2 separate regions of the Homo sapiens genome follow, and region 1 is linked to region 2. A link means that fine-mapping ties the variant in region 2 to the expression of a gene that starts in the linked region. Tissue or cell type: blood mononuclear cells. Region 2 holds a variant in brackets; the other region holds the start of a gene. All regions are shown on one strand. Distances are from middle to middle.

The links. PIP is the estimated chance that this variant, and not a neighbour inherited with it, causes the effect.
Region 1: ACACA starts here. The variant in region 2 is fine-mapped to the expression of ACACA in blood mononuclear cells (TOPMed, PIP above 0.99).

The regions. Positions count from the first base shown.
Region 1 is chr17:37,401,785-37,409,966 of GRCh38, forward strand. It overlaps ACACA (acetyl-CoA carboxylase alpha), which reads right to left and starts at 5,052. Exons shown (of 56, transcript NM_198834.3): 1 at 4,478-5,052. The coding sequence starts at 4,515. It overlaps TADA2A (transcriptional adaptor 2A), which reads left to right and starts at 5,102. Exons shown (of 16, transcript NM_001166105.3): 1 at 5,102-5,165. RefSeq lists an enhancer at 6,234-6,918.
Region 2 is chr17:37,468,083-37,476,264 of GRCh38, forward strand. It overlaps TADA2A (transcriptional adaptor 2A), which reads left to right. Exons shown (of 16, transcript NM_001166105.3): 13 at 2,318-2,450; 14 at 3,012-3,055; 15 at 6,474-6,547. Among named protein-coding and RNA genes, the nearest start is that of DUSP14, 18 kb to the right of the region's middle. The variant G/A (reference allele first, on the strand shown) is at 3,519.

The DNA of each region.
Region 1 (8,182 bases), 66 kb before region 2:
CCTGAGCCCAAGCAATCTTCCCACCTAGGACTGTCAAAGTGTTGGGATTACAGGCATGAGCCACCGCACCAGGCCAGAAACTCTACGTTTGATTCTAACCACAGCAGCTTAGCAGCTGAGGACAAACTGTTGGGATATTTTGGTCTCAGTCAATGGCAGCCAGGTTACCAACCCTGACAAGATACAAGTTTTCTTCGTTGGGTTCCTGGTACAAAAGTCAACCTTTTCAGTTACTTATGAATGAAAGGGCATGAAGATTGTGCTATTAGTTTATCCTGAAGGTCAATCTTCAAAAATACTGGTTCAACATGGATTTGGATATTATTAATATAAATTTATGGCTTAAAGAGGACAAAAGGTGTTTTTTTGGGTTCCTTTACAGAGATATTTAGTGAGGGAACAAGGCACTTAGTCATCTTTGCTATGACAGGTTAAATACAAGGTGTACTGGGAACATGTAAGAGGGTGACTTAACTCAGCCATTGGGGGGTCAGGAGAAGTGTTCCTAAGGAAGTGATGTCTAAGTGAGGTAGGCAGTACCTTGGCAAAAAAAACCTTGAAGTTAAGAGTGCATATGAGAAATGAAGGTATGTCCACCTGGCTGGCAAATGGAGTCTAAGATAGGGCAGTGATGATAAAGATATAGGAAGATGCTAGATCTGGAAGGGCCTTCTAAAAAGAATGACAATATAAATTTATTGTACAAATGGAGACTTTACTGAGAGTGAAACCAGGCAATATTAATACTTAGGTAGGGACAACAGATATAAACCAGGCTATTCTCAGCAAATCAGAAATTATGGTCACCCTACTTGTAAGTCACATTCAGGTGCTTAGACTTTCAGTGAAAGCATAGAGTATGTATCTTCTACATTTTGCCTAAGTGACTTCATTCTTTTTTTTTTTGAGACAGAGTCTCGCTCTGTTGCCCAGGCTGGAGTACAGCGGCACGATCTCAGCTCACTGCAAGCTCCACCTCCCAGGTTCACGCCATTCTTCTTCCTCAGCCTCCTGAGTAGCTGGGACTACAGGCGCCCACCACCACGCCCGGCTAATTTTTTGTATTTTTAGTTGAGATGGGGTTTCACCATGTTAGCCAGGATGGTCTCGATCTCCTGACCTCGTGATCCGCCCGCCTCAGCCTCCCAAAGTGCTGGGATTACAGGCGTGAGCCACTGCACCCAGCCAGTGACTTCATTTTTACTTTTGCCTTTACTTACTCATTTCACAAGTATTTGAGGATACACTTCAGAGCACTGAGGTTACAAAGACAACAGTGTCTGTCCTCAAGGTCTGTCTAGGTAAGACACACAGCCAAATAAACAATTCTAATACAGTTATACAGTTTTAGTTCTGACACCTCCAATGAGCTGTAGACTTGTATTTGTCATTTCCAGTCAGAATGCAAAACACAGATCCAAAACAGAACTTTCAATTTCTCCTCCAAATCTATTCTTCCTTCAGCTGGTCGTGTAAGTGATGCCACTATCACATCCACTTAAGACAAAAACCCAGAGGAGTACTGCCTTAATCAGTAATCAGTGTTACCCTTCTTCTCACTGTGCATGTTAATTTTGCCACATCTTTTTTTTTTTTTTTTTTTTTGGTACAGTGTCTCACTCTGTCACCTAGGCTGGAGTGCAGTGGTGTGATACTGGGTCAATGCAGCCTCAACCCTCTGGGCTGAAGTGATCCTCTCACCTCAGCCTCCTAAGTAGCTGGGACTACAGGCATGCGCCACTACACCTGGCTAATTTTTGCAATTTTTGTAGAGACGAAGTTTCACCATGTTGCCCAGTTCTCATGCCTCCTTGAACTCCTGAACTCAAGTGATCTGCCTACCTTGGCTTCCCAAAATGCAGGGATCCCAGGTGTGAGGCACCGTGTCCTGCCCTCTCCACATCTTTCTTAAGCACACTGACTAAATTGGTCTAAGTAGAGCCTAACATCAACTGAAGGGAGAGGGTAATTTCCAGGTAGTTGAATGCTATGATTTTTGTTTTTTTGTTTTTGAGACAGACTCTTGCTCTGTTGAACAGGCTGGAGGGCAGTGGTGCGATTTCAGCTCACTGCAACCTCCACCTCCAGGGTTCAAGCAATTCTTGCGCCTCCCAAGAAGCTGGGATTACAGGCATGCGCCACCACACCCAGCTAATTGTTGCATTTTTAGCAGAGATGGGTTTTCGCCATGTTGCCCAGGCTGATCTTGAACTACTGGCCTCAAATGATCCATCTGCCTTGGCCTCCCAAACTGCTGGGATTACAGGAATGAGCCACTGTGCCTGGCCCCTGAATGCTATGTTTTTAACGACTAGATCTCAGTATTATGTGGGACTAATTTTTCTACAGTATTACAACACTGATTACTGATATTCATTGTTGACAATCATGACATCCAGATCTGGATATTTGCCTTAGCCAGTCTCAAAATTTGAGTTTCAATGACAAAGACACAGATATGTCCTAAATGACTGACCCCACTTCCACTATGTGAAGTTGAGAGTGGTTGTAAAGCTGTACAGCTATAGGTGAAACACTAATGTTAATCAACTATCTGTTGAACAACTACCATGTAAAAGGACAATTTATGCCTTAGAGAGCAATTTAAAATTTTTTTAGAGATGGGGGTCTCGATACGTTGCCTAGACTGGTCTCAAACTTGGGCTCAATCCATCCTCCTGCCTCAGTCTCTCGAGTAGCTGGGATTACAGGTACACACCACTTCACCAGGCAAAGGGCAATTTTAATATTTCTACCATCCATTCTCCACACAGCTGCCACAGTGATTTTTTTTTTTTTTTTTTTTTTGAGATGCAGTTTCACTCTGTTGCCCAGGCTTGAGTGTAGTGGCACAATCTTGGCTCACTGCAACCTCCACCTCCCAGGTTCAAGTGATTCTCCTACCTCAGCCTCCCGAGTAGCTGGGATTACAGGCGCCCGTCACAATGCCCAGCTAATTTTTTTTGTATTTTTAGTAGAGATGAGGTTTCACCATGTTGACCAGGCTGGTCTCGAACTTCTAACCTCAAGTGATCCGCCTGCCTCGGCCTCCCAAAGTGATGGGATTACAGGTGTGAGCCACCGCTCCCAGCCCACAGTGATCCTTTTACAGCAAAGCTACTCCTTTGCTCTCAACCCTTCGTCATATTCTGTCACTTCCCAATAAAATCCAAACCTTACCAGATGATACATGATCTGCCTTGATTTCCATCTAATTTCTCTCATTTGCTGTGCTCCAGCCACACTGGTCTTGCCCTTTCTCCATGCCAAACAAATCCCCATTTCAGGGTCACTGCACTTGCTGCTTCTCTTCTAGGATAGTTTCCCTCTAGAAATCCATGTTGCTCCTTCTCTCATTAAATGATCAGATATTTATGTGCCTCCTTAGCTAAGAGGCCTTCCTTATCTACCCTAACTAAGAGAATCCCCATATCACTCTTATCCTTTTATCCTGATTTATTTTTCCATAAAACTTGCCACATTACTGGGCATTATCTATCATTTAGTAATGTGTATATTGCTTATTGACAGTCTTCCCTACTATAATATGAGCTCCATGAGGCAGAGACTTTGTTTTGTTCACTGCTGAATTCCCAGCACCTACAACAAGCCTACTCACTAAACATTTGTTGAATTAATCTTCAGGATACATCAAATGTAAAATATCCTATCATATATTTATTGATGTGATGCATAGGAAAATGTCTGGAAGGGTACATACCAAAATGTTAATTATTTATTTAACCTGGTGGGAGGTGGTTTTTCTTTCCTTTTCTTTTCTTTTTGAGACAGAGTTTCGCTCTCGTTGCCCAGGCTGGAGTGGAATGGCAAGATCTTGGCTCATTGTAACCTCTGCCCCCAGGGTTCAAGCGATTCTACTGCCTCAGCCTCCGGAGTAGCTGGGATTACAGGTGCCTGCCACCACACCCGCGTAATTTTTTGTATTTTTAGTAGAGACGGGATTTCACCATGTTGGTCAGGCTGGTCTAGAACTCCAGACCCTGTGATCCGCCCGCCTCGGCCTGCCAAAGTGCTGGAATTACAGGCGTGAGCCACCGCGCCCGGCAGGGCTTTTTTTTTTTTTTTTTTTTGGAATGAACTTGTATTATGCATATACCAAAAAAGAATGAAAGGGTTCACACAGGCATAAAGTGTAAGTGAATTCTAAAAAAAGGTTGGGCAAATTTATCAAAGGCAGACTTCTAAATAGATGTAACAGTTATATAGTTCAGATAAACCATGGTTTGAATTCCCTTCCCCAGTACTTCCTAGCAGTGTGATCCCAAGTTATTTATGTCAGTGCCTAGATTTCTTCACCTGGAAAATAGGGATAACAACAGGTGCCTACCTCACAAGTTTTAAATGAGACCGTATGTGTAACCTGCTTTGTGCAATGTCTGGCATGCAATAAGTACTCGACAAATGGTAGCTATTAGAATCATCATTAACAGCAGTAATAAGAGATCTTGGGACATACCTAGCCCTCAAGATTGACATCAGAGTAGACCACCACATCCTCTCATCATTGCGCCTCAATTTGGGCCTCTGAAGCCCAAAGAGGGGATGGTTCTTTCCAAAGAAGACAATTTCGACGTTCCAGGAGCATCTGATTGAAACGCACCCTCTTCACCCCTTAAAATCAGTCTGGTTCATCCACGAGCAGCCCTTCGGGGCCCGGACTGGAGAGGCGCCACGGCTCGCCGTCCCTGGGCCCAGTTCCCTCAGCCTCAATTTCCCTTGCTGCAACAGGGGTGGAGATGGGAACGTTATCCCCAAACCCAGGCAGTCCCGGCTCGGCCCGCCTCACCGCACTCCGGAGGGGACCAAACAGCCCCACGCGCCAGGAAGCCTCAGGCAACGGGCCACGCGCCACACGGGCAAAGTGATTACTGGTCGGATCAAAAGTCAGGCAAGCGGCTCAGCCCCATCCTCCCAGTCCTCGGGCACGGGGACAGCAGCAGGCGCGCGGCGGGGACCGGGAAAAGGCCAAGAGGGCGGTGGCGGGCGCTCAGCACCCGGCGGGGGCCTCCACGGCCGAGGGGCGGAGGCGGCGGGCGCGCGGCACGCGGCGCGCTCGCCACTGCGCCGCCCGGGGGCGCGCACGCAAAGCCCGGAGGCGCGCGCGACCGGCGGCTCTTTGGCGCGGATTAGGGGGTCTCGGCGAGGTGAGGCGCCAGGCAGCGCTGGGCGGGCGGGCGGGCGGGTGGCGGAGCGCGAGCCCCTCTAGCGGGACTAGGGAGAAGCGGGGGCCACGAGGTGCGGCGGGGGAGGAGTCGCGGGCTGCGGGCCCCGGCGGCGGGCTTGACGCGGCAGGCTGGCGGGCCGGCGGGCGGGCAGCGGCGGGCCTCGCCGCTCTGTGGGGGAGGGCGGTGTGGGGCCGGGCCTGACCCCGGGGGCCCGCCCCGCGTCTGGGCGGTGCCCCAGTGCCCCGGCCTCGCCATTTCCCGCTCAGCCCTGGAGCGCGTAGCTCTACCAAGAATGGCCACTGTGCCAGATGCCCCTGACCAGCGTTGCCCATTTGAATTTCCTAGCAGGCCCCCCAAAGTAGGTATTTCAGTACCCTGTTAGAGCTGAGGCGCAGGTAAAATGACTGGCCCAGGCCGGTCCCACCCCGTAAGGATTTGAACGTTGGCTCCACAACTCGGGAGCCTGCGCCTTTCCTCCTCCCAACGTGGACTCCTGCCCGGCGAAGTGCCTCACTTCCTTCTCCCGGTAACTGATTCGAATTTGGCGATTGTTAGTTTGGAGCTAGCGCCAGTGTTTCCACGGAAGTTGGTGTCAGAATGTGGTCTCTTGTGAAAGGGGGAGAAAGAAGATTCTGCAGACTGCAATATTGTGCTTTTTTGCCTTTTTTTTTTTTTCTCCTAGGCTGTACTGCAGTGCAGTGGCACGATCGCGGCTCACTGCAATCTCCGCCTCCCAGGCTCAAGCGATTCTCGTGCCTGAGGCGTGGGCCACCACGCCCAGCTAATATTTGTATTTTCAGCAGAGGTGGGGTTTCACCATGTTGGCCAGGCTGGTCTCGAACTCCTGACCTCAAGTGATCCTTCCGCCTCGGCCTCCCAAAGTGCTGGGATTACAGGCGTGAGCCACCACGCCCGGCCCTACTATTTTTTTATTTTTTGAGATGGCGTTTCTTTCGCCCAGGCTGGAGTGCAATGGCGCCATCTCAACACACTGCAACTTCTGCCTCCCAGGTTCAAGCGATTCTCCTGCCTCAGCCTCCCGAGTACCTGGGATTACAGGCGCCCGCCACCACACCTGGCTATTTTTTGTATTTTTAGTAGAGATGGGGTTTCGCTGTGTTGGCCAGGTTGATCTCGAACTCCTGACCTCAGGTTATCTGCCCACCTGGGACTCCCAAAGTGCTGAGATTACAGGCGTGAGCCACCGCACCCGGCCTCCTACTGTGCTTTTTCGAGTGTTGATCAGTCCCTATTGACTGTGCATCCTTTACTGGACGTCTGTTTTTGTTTTTGTTTTTTGAGAGGGAGTTTCACACTTGTTGCTCAGGCCAGAGTGCAACAGCGCGTTCTCAGCCCACCGCAACCTCCACCTCCCGGGTTCAAGCAGTTCTCTTGCCTCAGCCTCCCAAGTAGCTGGATTACAGGCATACGCCACCACGCCCAGCTAATTTTGTATTTTTAGTAGAGACAGGGTTTCTACATGTTGGTCAGGCTGATCTCGAACTGCCGACTTCAGGTGATCTGCCTGCCTCGGCCTGCTAAAGTGCTGGGATTACAGGCGTGAGCCACTGCGTCCAGCCTTGACATCTGTATTTGAAATGACACAGCTATCCCTTGTAAGACACTGCGCAAGTAACATACTCTTTCAGAGCTTGCTTGCTTTTGAAAAAGCAGCTTGCCCCAAAAGTGTGGGAGTGAGGATTCAAAGAATCCCCACACCTTGGTACCCACGGGTACCTAGCAAATTGAAAAAGTTCAGTAAATTTGGCAGTTATTTGATTGCTGCGTTCGTAATACACCCTTGCTAGACTCATTTTTCTTCAGAGCTCAACTTTTCCTGAGAGGACAGCAAAGGGAGACCTACCCCACCCCAAAAAGGGAAAGTTCTTTGATGGCAGCGTTAGCAGAAATGTTGCCCACACTTAGTGATGAATTATTCTCCAAGCTAAAAATTACCAGGGTGAAAAAAATCACTTCAGAAAAGCTAAAGATAAATTAACCTTTTGTAGAATTAACATTTATTAGTCCACTACTATGTGTTTATTGTATTCCTCCTGTATGCTTGGCATTTTAAAAGCATACAGATAGGTATCCGATATAGTCTCTGCTTTCACTTATTTATTATTTATTTTTGAGACAGGATCTTGCACTGTCGCCCAGGCTGGAGTGCAGTGGCACAATCTCGGCTCACTGCAACCTCCACCTGCCTGGTTCAAGCAACTCTCATGCCTCAGCCTCCCGAGTAGCTGGGATTATAGGCGCCCGCCACCACGCCAAGCAAATTTTTTTGTATTTTTGGTAGAGACGGGGTTCTCACTATGTTGCCCAGGCTGGTCTGAAACTCCTGACCTCTGGAGATTCATCTGCCTCAGTCTCCCAAAGTGCTGGAGTTACAGACATGAGCTACCACACCCAGCCTGCTTTCACTTAATTTAGAAGTGGGGGAAAATAGACATTCAGAAGTAATACTCACAAAGTAGAATGTGAAAAATGCCAGATAAAAAGCTGTGAGTGGGCCGGGTGCGGTGGCTCATGCCTGTAATCCCAGCACTTGGGGAGGCTGAGGTGGGCAGATCGCCTGAGGTCAGGAGTTCGAGACCAGCCTGGCCAACATGGTGAAACCCCGTCTCTACTAAAAATACAAAAATTAGCCAGGCCTGGTGGCCCGCGCCTGTAATCCCAGCTAATTGGGAGGCTGAGGCAGGAGACTCGCTTGAACCCGGGAGGCGGAAGTTGCAGTGAGCTGAGATCGTGCCATTGCATTCCAGCCTAGGCAACGAGAGCGAGACTTAGTCTCAAAAAAAAACAAAAACAAAAACAAAAAGCTGTGAGTGTACAGAAGAAGGATTATTTTTTGACTTAGTGTAAAATATTATTTTATTTCTGCTTCAAAGAAGATACTTTGGGCCAGGCATGGTGGCTCACACTTGTAATCCCAGCACTCCAGCACTTTTGGAGGCCGAGGTGGGCGGATCACTTGAGGCCAAGAGTTCGAG
Region 2 (8,182 bases):
AAAAAAAAAAAAAGGAATTTTATATTTTAGGTGTGTCACCCTTTTCAAATTTAATGATACATGGTCTTAGCATTTTTATAAAATAATGAAGCTTCAACTGGCTCCAGGTGCTTGCATCCCAGTTACTTGGGGTAGTGACAATAATTATATTATTAGCAGCTAACATCTATCAGATATTTACCATGTACCAGTCTCTATGCTAACCATTTCACTTGGATCAAGTCAATGAATTCTCATGACAAACTTATAAAGTACCGTTACTTCCATTTAGTGAAGAAATTAAGGTATAAAGAGGTTACAGAGCTAGTTAGTACTAGAACCAGGTCATAAGAGATAGTGTATTATAGTAGTTAAGAGCTTGGGTCTAGACTTAAAAAGCTTGAGTATAAATTTTGGCTCTCCAGCTTGCCAGCTCTGTGATGTGATTCTATCCAAATTTATTTTTCTTTCCTTTTTTTTTTTTCCCTAGAGACTGACTCTTGCTATGTTGCCCAGGCTGGTCTCAAACTCCTGGCCTCAAGCAGTCCTCCCGCCTAGGCCTCTCAGAGTGCTGGGATTACAGGTGTGAGCAACTGTGCCTGGCCTCTATTCAAGTTTTAATTTTCTAAGGTTCTTAGAGTTAGTGTAAAGATTTAATTAGAGATACTGCATATAAGCATAGCACAGTATCTGGCACACAATAATTCCTCAATAAATGGCAGTTTCTGTTGTTTTGCTGTCATTGTTGAAATGATCTTTAGCATTCCCTCCTTCTTCCTATTTGAAGTTTTTGTGATTATTGATAGTTGTCACCTACTATCTATAAGAAATAGTTGGCTTCTTTTTTTTTTTTATTTGAGACGGAGTCTGGCTCTGTTGCGCAGGCTGGAGTTCAGTGGTGCCATCTTGGTTCACCACAACCTCTGCCTTCTAGGTTCAAGCGAGTCTCCTGCCTCAGCCTCCTGAGTAGCTGGGACTACAGTCATGCACCACCATACCCGGCTAATTTTTTTTTTTGTATTTTTAGTAGAGATGGGGTTTATCCATGTTGGTCAGGCTGATCTCGAACTCCTGACCTCAGGTGATCCACCCACCTCAGCCTCCCAAAGCGCTGGGATTACAGGTGTGAGCCACCACGCCCGGCAATAGTTGGCTTCTTAACACAGCCCTGTGGGTGCAACATAGCCTTATGGATGTAAGTTCAGCCTAGTATAATGGCTCTTTAACAGTGGAAACCATTTTTGAAATTAAATTTTGTGTGAGCCCCAATCTACAAATAAGATAAAAGTGGGCTGGGCACGGTGGCTCACACCTGTAATCCCAGCACTTTGGGAGGCCGAGGCGGGCGGATCACTTGAGGTCCAGAGTTCAAGACCAGCCTGACCAACATGGAGAAACCCCGTGTCTACTAAAAATACAAAATTAGCTGGGCATGGTGGCGCATGCCTGTAATCCCAGCTACTCCGGAGGCTGAGGCAGGAGAATGGCTTGAACCTGGGAGGTGGAGGTTGCTGTGAGCCGAGATCGCGCCATTGCACTCAAGCCTGGGCAACAAGAGCGAAACTCCGTCTCAAAAAAAGATAAAAGTGGAATTACTTTGGTTGAACTTTAATGGTTCAATTTATGTGTAGAGCCCAGGACCCGCCGGTATCTGGCAGTGCCCTTTCTCTTTACATTAACCTCTAAGATACTCTTGTGGTATCCTGGGGCTCTGTGGAACCTAGTTTGAATTTTGAAACCCACTGGTGCAGTATTTTGGAATCTGTGAACCTTTGTTAACATGTAGAAAACACCACGCAGCTCTTCTGTTTAGCAAGATGCATATAGAGACTCTGATAACTAATTTTGGTTTCCTGATATTGGCTGCCTCTAAGAAATATGGAGAAGAGGTACTACATGTCAAAGAGAACTCTTTTTTTGTAATTCTAATTGTTTTTTAAGGAAAGGCATATGCTTATAGCACTTGTGTGACTTTGAAAAAATTTATAAAAATAGAAAAAACAGGAAGCAAATATGACTATAGTAAAAGTTGGTTACTTTTTGAGAGTGGAAATATGAGCAATTCTTACTTTCTTTGTACTTTTCTGTTGGTTTTTTTCCCCTTATTTCTTACAGATAGAAAAGGAATACAAATGTTTAATATTTAATACTTAGTATTAAGAAAAGGATTTCAGACTAGGGAAAATCTACTTGGGTCTTGGAGAAATAATTGTGAAAGCAGTTTTGCAAAGGAAACAGACTTTAAGAACAAAACCCAAAACCGGTTTCTTGGTCAGTTAGGAAGCCCTTCAGTTCTGCTGCATTGTCATTGTGGTCATTGTGTTTTCTATACCCCCAGGTGCCAGAACCTACGATCACCTCAAGAAGACACGGGAGGAAGAGCGCCTTAAACGCACTATGCTCTCAGAAGTTCTCCAGTATATCCAGGACAGTAGTGCTTGCCAGCAGTGGCTCCGCCGGCAAGCTGACATGTGAGTAATTACTCCAGGGTGAAGGAGGCATTCTTTCTGGGATGCCTTGGCCTTCACATATATTTTTGGGCACCCTAGATGGCAGAGTAATAATAATTGAGTAGCTGGAAGAATTCAGAAATATTTTAGCAGTCCATCTCAGAAACAGTGCCATACTGACAGTTTTGAGAAATAACTGACCTCCTAGAATCATACTTTACTACTTTGATCCTATTTTTTAAAATGAGTGTATTTTCCCCCAGCCTTCTACCCATGACTTCAACTCTCTCTTCATACCTAGATTTTCACTGGGGAATCATGTTTGTATCCCTTCCCCTTGAGTGGTGTTAGTGGTGTTCTAGATTACAAGCTCTTCTTAACAAATCTGAGGAATTTTTCTTCCTCAGAACAGATTTTCTTTCCTGCTCAATACAGTGAGATATCTGTAAAACATAGTTCAGTCTATCTCATTACACTTCTTCAAGGTGACCTACCTGATAAATGGCACCCAGTCTCACCGGGGCTTTTGGAAATCACCTTGTTTGATATGACCTAAGTTTAAATTCCTCTTCTTCGTTGTAGTGATTCCGGCCTGAGTCCTTCCATTCCAATGGCTTCGAATTCAGGTAATTATTTCTCAGGCCAGAACAAGTCTTAATTGTGAAGTTTGCATCGTAGGGGTTATAGTGACCCAGCAATCTTCCTTCCTCTGTGGTGTCAGGGTGCTTAGGCAGAGTAACAGTAATCAAGTGTTAGCCCAATATATAAACATCAGTATGTTTTCAGAACCTTCATGGCCAGACAGAGACTATCCTCAGAGTGACAGTATAGAGTATAGACAGTATAGAGACAGGGGAAAAAAGAACTTCAGAGAGGTAACTTCTTTATTTTACCAATGTTCATGAGCAGTTAGTTTACTGCAGTTGTGTCTACCACTAATTTTGAGACTTATTTCACAGGAGATAAATTAAAAGCTTTTTATTTTATTATTTTTTATTTATTTACTTATTTTTTGAGACAGAGTCTCGGTCTGTCGCCCAGGCTGGAGTGCAGTGGTGTGATCTCGGCTCACTGCAACCTCCGCTTCCC[G/A]GGTTCAAGTGATTCTTCTGCCCCAGCCTCCCGAACAGCTGGGATTACAGGCATGCACCACCACGCCTGGCTAATTTTTGTATTTTTGGTAGGGACGGTTTTGCCATGTTGGCCAGGCTGGTCTCGAACTCCTGACCTCAAGTGAGGCACCCACCACGGCCTCCCAAAGTGCTGGAATTACAGGCGTGAGCCACCGTGCCCAGCCTAAACTTTTTATTTTTATATAACATGAGCAAAGAAGCATGTTACTTGCCAGAAACATAAGGATTTCTGAGTTAGAGACCTAAAGTATTTCTATTTCTTCGTTTTACCTCTTTGAGTATGTCCTATTTTGAAATTAGTATACAGAGCAAGATTAAGCCATACGCTATCTGATGATCCTTGGTGATTGGTAATCGATGACTGGGAATTGGGGGAGGTATGTCTCAGTAGATTCAGAATCTGGGTCTCAGATTTGTCCGCGTTAGGGACTTTTTTTTTTTTGAGATGGAGTCTCGCTCTGTCACCCAGGCTGGAGTGCAGTGACGCGATCTTGGCTCACTGCAACCTCTGCCTTCCGGATTCAAGCGATTCTCCTGCCTCAGCCTCCCAAGTAGCTGGGATTAGAGGCGCCTGCCACTATGCCCAGCTGATTTTTGTACTTTCAGTAGAGATGGGGTTTCGCCATGCTGGCCAGGCTGGTCTCGAACTGCTGACCTCAGGTGATCTGCCTGCCTCGGCCTCCCAAAGTGCTGGGATTACAGGCATGAGCCACTGCGCCTGGTCACTGAAGGGACTTTTTTTTTTCCCCCATTTATTCCTTTATTTCAAGTGATTTTTTCTTAATATGGAAAGAAGAAAAAGGTATTGTTTTAGGGGAGTGGCTAAGACAGTGAAATCAAAGTTTTATTTTGTAAGTTTCTTACTGCCAACACTCTACCCCCAAAATCTAAATACAACTAAGTTAATACTGGCTAATTAAAATGAAGGAACTGGGTCAGGTGCAGTGGCTCATGCCTGTAATCCCAGCACTTTGAGAGGCTGAGGCGGGCAGATCACCTGAGGTTGGGAGTTTGAGACCAGCCTGACCAACGTGATGAAAACCCATCTCTCCTGAAAAAAAAATATAAAAATTAGCTGGGTGTGGTGGTACACATCTGTAATCCCAGCTACTCCAGAGGCTGAGGCAGGAGAATCGCTTGAATCCGGGAGGCAGAGGTTTCAGTGAGCCAAGATCGCACCATTGCACTCCAGCCTGGGTGACAGAGTTAAGACCATCTCAAAAAATAAATAAATTAATTAATTAAATTAAATGAAGGAACTGGCTAACATGATCATATATTTTTGTTCTCTGTACTATCTGCACTGACTTGTTCATTGTTTCTTTTTTCTTTTTTTGTGAGACAGGGTCTCCCTCTACTATCCAGGCTGGAGTGCAGTATGTGATCATGGCTCACTGTAGCCTCAAACTCCCAGGCCTAAGTGATCCTCCCAGTTCAGCTCCTGAGTGGCTGGGACTACAGGTGAATGCCACCAAACCTGGAGAAATTTTTTTTTTTTTTTTTTTTTTTTTGGTAGAAACAAGGTCTTACTATATCACCCAGGTTGGTCTTGAACTCCTGGGCTCAAGTGATCCTCCTGCTTCAGCCTCCCAAAGTGCTCAGATTACAGGTGTGAGCCTCTGCACCCGGCCTCTTGTTCATTGTTTGTTCCTAGCCTGTGTTAGCCTTTCTCACCCCTTATATTTAGGCTGAGGAGATCTCTTGCTCTCCTTTATGTTCTGAGTTCTTAAGGCAACTATGTATTGGAAGCCTGGCATCTTTGATTGTAGCCTAGCCTCTGGTGACTTTTGTGAGGAACCAAATGGTTTTATCTCCCTTTTTGAGGATTTGGAATAATCCCTTATGCCTTTTGTTGATGTAACAGAGAAGCCTGTTTTCCACCAGTGGAGCTTGTAACAGTCCCTCCCCTTTCTCTGCCCCACTTGAAAAGCAACCTCTATAAAACTTCGACATTTTCTTTGCTTAACTCAGTCTATCCATTCCCAGCTGAATACCAATCCCTAATACACATTCAAAACAAAACCAAAAAAGTTTTGCTCATCAAGCTTCCCCTCCTGGCCAGTGACCTCCTACTTGGGTTTCTTTCTCAGGTGTGTGAGTTGACCTCAGCCCCTGCTTTGCCATATAATGGCTCATTGTTCCTGTTTGTGGATCTTGCAGGTAAACAGGGCTACTTTGGAAGGAACAGATATTCCCTCACATAATAAAAAAGAAGGGCCTTTTGCTGGCCTAACAGTCTTTCTTTGATCTGAAGGCACACAGTACTTGGTTAATTACCATGTTTGCCTTGTACTGCTGGCCGAGTGGCAAGGATTAGGGAATGTCTGTTCTGCAGTTATTATTTCCATTCGTCAGCTGTCAAAGCAGGCATTGTGTGATGTTTCTTAACTGGATGACATCTGGGCATCAGATTTTAGAGTCTCCTACATGGTTAGGAAGAAATAGGTGATAGTCGGGCATGGTGGCATATGCCTGTCTTCCCAGGTAGTTGGGAGGCTGAGGCAGGAGGATCACTTGAGCCAGGGAGATTGAGGCTATAGTGAGCTATGATCGCAACACTGCACTCCAGCCTGAGCAACAGAGTGAGACCCTGTCTCAAAAATAATAATAATAAATAAGAGATAACTACTGTGGTGAGTAGTTACATTTGATGCTAAGGTATGTGTGACTGTATGTGTATTTTAGCAGATTATGGGTAATTCATGTGCCCTGAATATGTAATTCATTTTCAAGTGAATGTTCGGGTGCCCATGTTGTTAGCTAAACAGGCCTGAGGGAATGGGACAGGATTTCCTAAGCTGGATATAGTGATCCTATACCTAACTGGCCTGGCTGCACTGAACTTTTTAATACTTTACACCTGAGAAATTGTCACTCCTATTAAATCTATGCTGTTTCCTTTCTCTGTCTATAGGTAGACGGAGTGCACCACCCTTGAACCTCACTGGCCTCCCTGGCACAGAGAAGCTGAATGAAAAAGAAAAGGAGGTAACAAAAGGGAGGGGGCTGGGAGAAAGAGAATAGGGGCTGATTATTCATTGAGTTGTCATTAAAAATCCATTACAGGGTCAAACCCCTTTTGTTTCATTCATCTAACATATATGCACAGCTCTGGTGAATCCTAGAAGTCCAAGAGCTAAAGAGCCGTTTGTGGCAGATTTCAGAGAATTGCTTACCTTGTCACCCTACCACCATTCCTCTTTTGGGGAAAGCACATGTGGTATGTAGATGACATAATAATAGCAACTATCATCTATTGAGCACTTACCATGTGCTACTCTACTGAGTGCTTTATGTAAATAAAATTAATTTTTTGTAAACCTAAAGTAACTTCTACATGAAAATAGATATTTCCTATTAGAATGGCTGCCTTGAAAAGTTCTATACTTATTCCAACAACATAATCATTATTTAAAACATTTTTGTAAATTGTCTCCAGAGCATGTTTATAAACCTAAGGAAAAGATTTCTACATCATATATAGTCATGTTAATTTTGATTTTAAAAATTATTTTTTATTTTTATTTTTTTTTATTTATTTATTTTTTGAGACGGAGACTTGCCCTGTCACCCAGGCTGGAGTGCAGTGATGCGATCACAGCTCACTGCAGCCTCCACCTCCCAGGTTCAAGCGATTCTTCTGCCTCAGCTCCCCGAGTAGCTGGGACTGGACTATAGGCGCTTGCCACCATGCCTGGCTAATTTTTGTAGTTTTTAGTAGAGATGGGGTTTCACCATGTTGGCCAGGCTGATCTTGAACTCCTGACCTCATGATCCATCCACCTTGGCCTCCCAAAGTGTTGGGATTACAGGCGTGAGCCACCTCACCCGGCCTATTTTTTATTTTTTATTTGAAAGTCTCGCTCTGTTACCCAGGCTGGAGTGCAGTGGTGTGATCTCGGCTCACTGCAACCTCTGCCTCCCGGGTTCAAACGATTCTCCTGCCCCTGAGTAGCTGGGACTACAGGCGCATACCACCACACCCGGCTAATTTTTGTATTTTTAGTAGAGACGGGGTTTCACCTTGTTAGCCAGGCTGGTCTCGAACTCCTGACTTCAGGTGATCCACTCACACCAGCTCCAAAAGTGCTGGGATTAGAGATGTGAGCCACTGCACCGGCCTGATTAAAAAATTATGTGACCTACTTTTTCCAGTTGCAATCATCAGACATGTCTTCATATTGATTTTATCTGTTTCTAAAATTTAAAGCCAGCCTCATAAGAGTCATCATCAGGAGTTTTCAGAAAACTTTGTCACATCTCTGAAGTCTGTTCCTCTTTTGGAGGAGTTCCTCTTTTGCTCCTCATATGCTCCTTTTATAATTCCCAAGGTCAGTTCCCCATCTCCCACCATATATCATTAGTTCAGTTCAGATAATAAGGAAGGGTCATAGTGTAGGGGATAGTGTTAGTCTTATTTTATCCACCAGGAACAGTAAGGATTAGTTTGGGAGTGGAAGGAAATGTATGTAGTATCTATGTATTGCTGAAGGAGGTCATAGGTCAGCCTGATTCAAATATTGAATGGCCTGGAATTTCAAGCTTTTTTTATCCTTACCCACATAATGGTGACCTCAGACTCCTCATTGCTGGATAATGTGGCAATTTTCTAGATTTTTAGCA